Homo sapiens: one gene and its partner. The protein of the gene in region 1 interacts with the protein of each later gene in a pairwise test. Each region holds a gene or a part of one and is shown in the gene's direction. Other genes may lie near its edges.

Region 1 (3,826 bases):
ACTCCCCCATTGGACTCACCAGACCTTCGCCGGACGAAAGGGAAAGTCCCTCAGTCAAGCGCATGCGACTTTCTGAAGGATGGGCAACATGATCAGATTATTACTTACTAGTTTTTTTTTTTTTCTTGCAGTGTGTGTGTGTGCTATACCTTAATGGGGAAGGGGGGTCGATATGCATTATATGTGCCGTGTGTGGAAAAAAAAAAAGTCAGGTACTCTGTTTTGTAAAAGTACTTTTAAATTGCCTCAGTGATACAGTATAAAGATAAACAGAAATGCTGAGATAAGCTTAGCACTTGAGTTGTACAACAGAACACTTGTACAAAATAGATTTTAAGGCTAACTTCTTTTCACTGTTGTGCTCCTTTGCAAAATGTATGTTACAATAGATAGTGTCATGTTGCAGGTTCAACGTTATTTACATGTAAATAGACAAAAGGAAACATTTGCCAAAAGCGGCAGATCTTTACTGAAAGAGAGAGCAGCTGTTATGCAACATATAGAAAAATGTATAGATGCTTGGACAGACCCGGTAATGGGTGGCCATTGGTAAATGTTAGGAACACACCAGGTCACCTGACATCCCAAGAATGCTCACAAACCTGCAGGCATATCATTGGCGTATGGCACTCATTAAAAAGGATCAGAGACCATTAAAAGAGGACCATACCTATTAAAAAAAAATGTGGAGTTGGAGGGCTAACATATTTAATTAAATAAATAAATAAATCTGGGTCTGCATCTCTTATTAAATAAAAATATAAAAATATGTACATTACATTTTGCTTATTTTCATATAAAAGGTAAGACAGAGTTTGCAAAGCATTTGTGGCTTTTTGTAGTTTACTTAAGCCAAAATGTGTTTTTTTCCCCTTGATAGCTTCGCTAATATTTTAAACAGTCCTGTAAAAAACCAAAAAGGACTTTTTGTATAGAAAGCACTACCCTAAGCCATGAAGAACTCCATGCTTTGCTAACCAAGATAACTGTTTTCTCTTTGTAGAAGTTTTGTTTTTGAAATGTGTATTTCTAATTATATAAAATATTAAGAATCTTTTAAAAAAATCTGTGAAATTAACATGCTTGTGTATAGCTTTCTAATATATATAATATTATGGTAATAGCAGAAGTTTTGTTATCTTAATAGCGGGAGGGGGGTATATTTGTGCAGTTGCACATTTGAGTAACTATTTTCTTTCTGTTTTCTTTTACTCTGCTTACATTTTATAAGTTTAAGGTCAGCTGTCAAAAGGATAACCTGTGGGGTTAGAACATATCACATTGCAACACCCTAAATTGTTTTTAATACATTAGCAATCTATTGGGTCAACTGACATCCATTGTATATACTAGTTTCTTTCATGCTATTTTTATTTTGTTTTTTGCATTTTTATCAAATGCAGGGCCCCTTTCTGATCTCACCATTTCACCATGCATCTTGGAATTCAGTAAGTGCATATCCTAACTTGCCCATATTCTAAATCATCTGGTTGGTTTTCAGCCTAGAATTTGATACGCTTTTTAGAAATATGCCCAGAATAGAAAAGCTATGTTGGGGCACATGTCCTGCAAATATGGCCCTAGAAACAAGTGATATGGAATTTACTTGGTGAATAAGTTATAAATTCCCACAGAAGAAAAATGTGAAAGACTGGGTGCTAGACAAGAAGGAAGCAGGTAAAGGGATAGTTGCTTTGTCATCCGTTTTTAATTATTTTAACTGACCCTTGACAATCTTGTCAGCAATATAGGACTGTTGAACAATCCCGGTGTGTCAGGACCCCCAAATGTCACTTCTGCATAAAGCATGTATGTCATCTATTTTTTCTTCAATAAAGAGATTTAATAGCCATTTCAAGAAATCCCATAAAGAACCTCTCTATGTCCCTTTTTTTAATTTAAAAAAAATGACTCTTGTCTAATATTCGTCTATAAGGGATTAATTTTCAGACCCTTTAATAAGTGAGTGCCATAAGAAAGTCAATATATATTGTTTAAAAGATATTTCAGTCTAGGAAAGATTTTCCTTCTCTTGGAATGTGAAGATCTGTCGATTCATCTCCAATCATATGCATTGACATACACAGCAAAGAAGATATAGGCAGTAATATCAACACTGCTATATCATGTGTAGGACATTTCTTATCCATTTTTTCTCTTTTACTTGCATAGTTGCTATGTGTTTCTCATTGTAAAAGGCTGCCGCTGGGTGGCAGAAGCCAAGAGACCTTATTAACTAGGCTATATTTTTCTTAACTTGATCTGAAATCCACAATTAGACCACAATGCACCTTTGGTTGTATCCATAAAGGATGCTAGCCTGCCTTGTACTAATGTTTTATATATTAAAAAAAAAAAATCTATCAACCATTTCATATATATCCCACTACTCAAGGTATCCATGGAACATGAAAGAATAACATTTATGCAGAGGAAAAACAAAAACATCCCTGAAAATATACACACTCATACACACACACGCACAGGGGAATAAAATAAGAAAATCATTTTCCTCACCATAGACTTGATCCCATCCTTACAACCCATCCTTCTAACTTGATGTGTATAAAATATGCAAACATTTCACAAATGTTCTTTGTCATTTCAAAATACTTTAGTATATCAATATCAGTAGATACCAGTGGGTGGGAAAGGGTCATTACATGAAAATATGAAGAAATAGCCATATTAGTTTTTTAACCTGCAATTTGCCTCAGCAACAAAGAAAAAGTGAATTTTTAATGCTGAAGATAAAGTAAGCTAAAGTACCAGCAGAAGCCTTGGCTATTTATAGCAGTTCTGACAATAGTTTTATAAGAACATGAAGAGAACAGAATCACTTGAAAATGGATGCCAGTCATCTCTTGTTCCCACTACTGAATTCTTATAAAGTGGTGGCAAGATAGGGAAGGGATAATCTGAGAATTTTTAAAAGATGATTTAATGAGAAGAAGCACAATTTTGATTTTGATGAGTCACTTTCTGTAAACAATCTTGGTCTATCTTTACCCTTATACCTTATCTGTAATTTACCATTTATTGTATTTGCAAAGCTAGTATGGTTTTTAATCACAGTAAATCCTTTGTATTCCAGACTTTAGGGCAGAGCCCTGAGGGAGTATTATTTTACATAACCCGTCCTAGAGTAACATTTTAGGCAACATTCTTCATTGCAAGTAAAAGATCCATAAGTGGCATTTTACACGGCTGCGAGTATTGTTATATCTAATCCTATTTTAAAAGATTTTTGGTAATATGAAGCTTGAATACTGGTAACAGTGATGCAATATACGCAAGCTGCACAACCTGTATATTGTATGCATTGCTGCGTGGAGGCTGTTTATTTCAACCTTTTTAAAAATTGTGTTTTTTAGTAAAATGGCTTATTTTTTCCCAAAGGTGGAATTTAGCATTTTGTAATGATGAATATAAAAATACCTGTCATCCCCAGATCATTTAAAAGTTAACTAAAGTGAGAATGAAAAAACAAAATTCCAAGACACTTTTTAAAAGAATGTCTGCCCTCACACACTTTTATGGATTTGTTTTTCTTACATACCCATCTTTTAACTTAGAGATAGCATTTTTTGCCCTCTTTATTTTGTTGTTTGTTTCTCCAGAGAGTAAACGCTTTGTAGTTCTTTCTTTAAAAAACATTTTTTTTAAAGAAGAAGAAGCCACTTGAACCCTCAATAAAGGCTGTTGCCTAAGCATGGCATACTTCATCTGTTCTCATTTGTGCCATCTGCCGTGATGTCGTCACTTTTATGGCGTTAATTTCCTGCCACTACAGATCTTTTGAAGATTGCTGGAATACTGGTGTCTG
Region 2 (3,826 bases), on another chromosome or scaffold:
GAGTGGAAGGTGCTAGCCACAATCCCACTTGACCTCTCCCTGCAAATGCCCACGGTGACCCTCGCTGACCTCAGGCCACACGCCTCAGGCCACGCTCCCACCCCCAAGCATTGGGTTTGGCTTTGCTCATGTCCATCCTGGTAGACAGCTCTCTACTGACTCATTAACAGACCAAGTCTCTGTCATCATCAGTAGTCCCCGATTACATCTTTCTGTCTGTGGACCTGACACTGGACTGGGATTATGAGAAAACCCAATTCAGTCTCCTCCCTGCCTCCAAATCTGGAAGGTGGCTCAGCTTACTCTTGGAGTCTTTTACTTCACTGTTAGGAATAATGATGCCTAACCTTGTTTTTGAAACAGGTGGAGCTAACAGGACATAGTATCTTTGACTTCACTCATCCCTGCGACCATGAGGAGATTCGTGAGAACCTGAGTCTCAAAAATGGTATCCTTAATTGTGTTTACTTCCTTCTTGCCCCCACTGGGTGGGAATCTGCCTCCCCTTTGTCTACGGGTATAAGGGAGATAGCTCATGGCCCTTGTGATGCAGGAAAAATGGATGTCCTTAAAAAATTTAAGTATGTAGCCTGTGAGATGAGATTGGGGCATTGAGAGGATCCAGTACTCAGAAATATCTCCTGCTGGCCCTGCATGGTGCCTGGTGTCCCACTACTAGGGGACACCTTTGGGTTAGGACACTGTCTCTAGGAGGTTTCATCACCCAAGAGTCAAGCATCTCTGCCAAATGACACCACCCAAACCAATGAGGAACTAGTCTGTGCCAAAGTGCTCATAGTAACTACTGTAGTTATCTATTGCTGTCTAACAAACCACCTATAACATAGGGCTTTGATGATTATCTCCCAGGGTTCTGTGGGTTCAGTGGGTGGGTCTTGTACTCCATGTGATGTCAGCTGGGCTGCAGTCATCTGGGGGCCAGACTAGGCTGGGGTGATCAGGATAGCTCACACACGTCTGGGACCTTGTGGCAGGTGGCTGGAACCCTGGACTCAGTTGGCATGCTGGGACAACAGGACTGTTCTCTCACTCTATGGAGACTCAGAGACTCTCCCTCTCCATATGGTGTCTCTAGGGTAGCCAGACATCTTACGTGGCAGTTTAGGGCTCCCAGAAGCACTAAAGTGGAAGCTGCCAGGCCTTCTGAAGGCTTTGTCCCCAGATTGGCAGAGCATCACTTCTGCCCCATCTTGTTGGTTAGAGCATGTTACAGGCCAGCCCTGGCTCATTGTGGGAGGAAACTACACGAAGCCATGAGTGTCAAAAGGCATGGCTTGTTGGAGCTACTTTTGGAGAAGAGCTACCACAGGAAATGGTACCCTGATGAGACGCAGGTCAAGTAGGTTTTGATGGAGAAGAGGTTTAAAAAGATGTAGCATTCAGGACCTTACCCATGGGGATACCCAGCAGGTGCCAGTAGATGAGAGGACCCACACAGGCAGAAAGCACGTTGCAATGGTTGCAATGGCAGTGGAGCTTCCTGTCTTGTAACTGTGGCCATTCAACAAAGGCATGAATAGGGACATTGTTAAGAGGACTGAAGCTTTGGTCAGAATTGGGGCTTAATGACTGTCAAGGTCCCTTCCAAACCTGAGATTCTGTCACTGGTCTGGGGAGATTCTGTGCATGTCTAGATGTCCTCTTTAACAACCTCACCTGTCACTGCCATGGGGCTTGTGCTTGTCCAGCCTGAATAACAGAGGCAGTGAGGCTAAGCCTACAAGGTTTGGCTCTTATTACCACACACGCTGCAAAAACAGACACTTCATTGGCTCACCTCCACCCTATTACAGACTGAGTCTGCAGTCCACATTTGGGCCTGCAAAGTACAGAATCACAACCACCTCCTCTTCTACCACTGCCACAGCTCCCTCACCCAGCTCCTCTGCTCTCTCTTCTGCAGGCCTTAGACCACCTGGGTCCTAGGGTACACTGGCAGAGAGCACCCTGTAGGCTGCTCAGTGTCTTGTCTGGTTCTGTGGGGAAAGGGCTACCAGACTTTCTAAAGCTCTCTAAAAAGAGGATTCATGTTCTGCATGGGTAGGTGCTTGAAGCCTGAGAAAGCCTGAGAAAACCAAAGACTGATTTCTTCTGTACTCCAGAAACCCTTTGGCCTTTGGGTTCTTAGTGTCAGTTCAGCCACTGACCATAGTCTGAGTTTGAGTCTGTGACCAGAAGCAAGTACCCTACTTCTCTGTTCCTCAGAGTCTTTCTTTTCAAATTGATGGTATTGGACTAGGCAAAGGCGACAACCTTTCAGTTCTCAAGTGCCATGATTCACAGCCAAGTGACCTCTAATTATCTGAGTAGAACTTTAGATCTCTTGATCTGCATATTGAGGACTTGGGATCAGTCAAACTCAATGCAACAGCAAATCTTCACTGAAGGTGCCAGCCTATGGGTGGACTCGTGATCTAGACCTAAAGGGTTAGTGTGAGTTCCTAGAGGAAAAGAAAGCCATGAGGCAGATTGTGGAAGGCTTTGAAGGCCAGGTGGAGGGCCTTGAACTTTATTCCATAGACAATGGGGAGCTATTGAAGGTTTCTGTGCAGGGGTGGAGTGATCTGTGTGGAGCAGTGTTTAGAAAGAATGAACAAGGCCAGGCACGGTGGCTCACGCCTGTAATCCCAGGACTTTCGGAGGCCAAGGTGGGTGGATCACGAGATCAAGAGATCGAGACCATCCTGGCCAACATGGTGAAACCCCATCTCTACCAAAAATACAAAAATTAGCTGGGCGTGGTGGCGCGTGCCTGTAGTCCCAGCTACTTGGGAGGCTGAGGCAGGAGAATCACTTGAACCCAGGAGGCAGAGGTTGCAGTGAGCCAAGATCACGCCACTGCACTCCAGCCTGGCGACAGAGCAAGATTCTGTCTCAAAAAAAAAAAAAAAAAAAAAAAAGATCAAATGTCAGCATGGGGAGAATCCAGAGGTTAGCAAGTTAAGAGGCCTCAATAATACCCCAGCAACAGCCACAAATGAATCCCTCCAGCCCCCTTATACCCAACAACTGGTCTGGTCCTGGTGGTGGGGCCAGATCCCAAGATACAGGTATATCTCATTGTATGCTAACCCCACCTCTGAAAATTAAAATGGCAAGAATCATAATTTGGTATGGGAGAAATGGTTTTATAATCGTGATGAAGGAATGTTCTCTCTTTTTTAAAAAAATTCACTATTCAGTCTGTTACTGAGTGGGGTCCCCTAAGGATGTTGAAGTTTTGTTCAAGGGTGCCACAGTTCCTTTGACACATAACTCTTCAGGAATATGTCAGTCAAGATCCTCTGGAAGTTTAAGTGCAGGGGCTGGTGACTGTTCCTGGAGGAAGGAGTGTGACTATTCGAAACAAGGCTCTAGATTGTTCTATGATGCTGGGTAGGGGGCAGGATTATATCTTTGAAAGTAGGTACCAGAGATGGTGGTGTAGGCAGGATTTAGACACAGACAAGTGGGATTCAGCTGGCACTCTTCATTACTTTGTTTTACAAAAAGTGGAAAATGGTTCTGAATCGGGAGGCTGTTTGGCAACTATAAGGAAGTAAGCTATATTGCTGGTCTTGGTGATTTAATTTTTGCTGAGAGAGAGGATATGATCCAGGTTGAGTTAATCCATAAAGTGGACTTGCTCACCAAGTCCACTGTAAGGAGATTCGTACCAGAGTTCTCTCTAGAGCCTTGATACATATGTCACTTCAGGGACAAAGCTAATGGCATGGTATCCTGAACACAGCTATTGCAGTTTGCAAATGGGGTACAGGAGGGGTTAAATTCCTCCTGAGAGACAGGTTATAAAGGAAAGACGGGA

Evidence for each region.
Region 2: the proteins of MEF2C (region 1) and EPAS1 interact in a two-hybrid assay, tested with the Homo sapiens proteins (one large-scale study listed by BioGRID and IntAct).

Annotation. Positions count from the first base shown.
Region 1 is NC_000005.10:88,718,870-88,722,695, reverse strand, and holds part of MEF2C (myocyte-specific enhancer factor 2C), read left to right. Parts: coding exon 1-92; 3' UTR 93-3,826. UniProt on the Homo sapiens protein: Transcription activator which binds specifically to the MEF2 element present in the regulatory regions of many muscle-specific genes. Controls cardiac morphogenesis and myogenesis, and is also involved in vascular development.
Region 2 is NC_000002.12:46,356,361-46,360,186, forward strand, and holds part of EPAS1 (endothelial PAS domain-containing protein 1), read left to right. Parts: intron 1-363; coding exon 364-448; intron 449-3,826.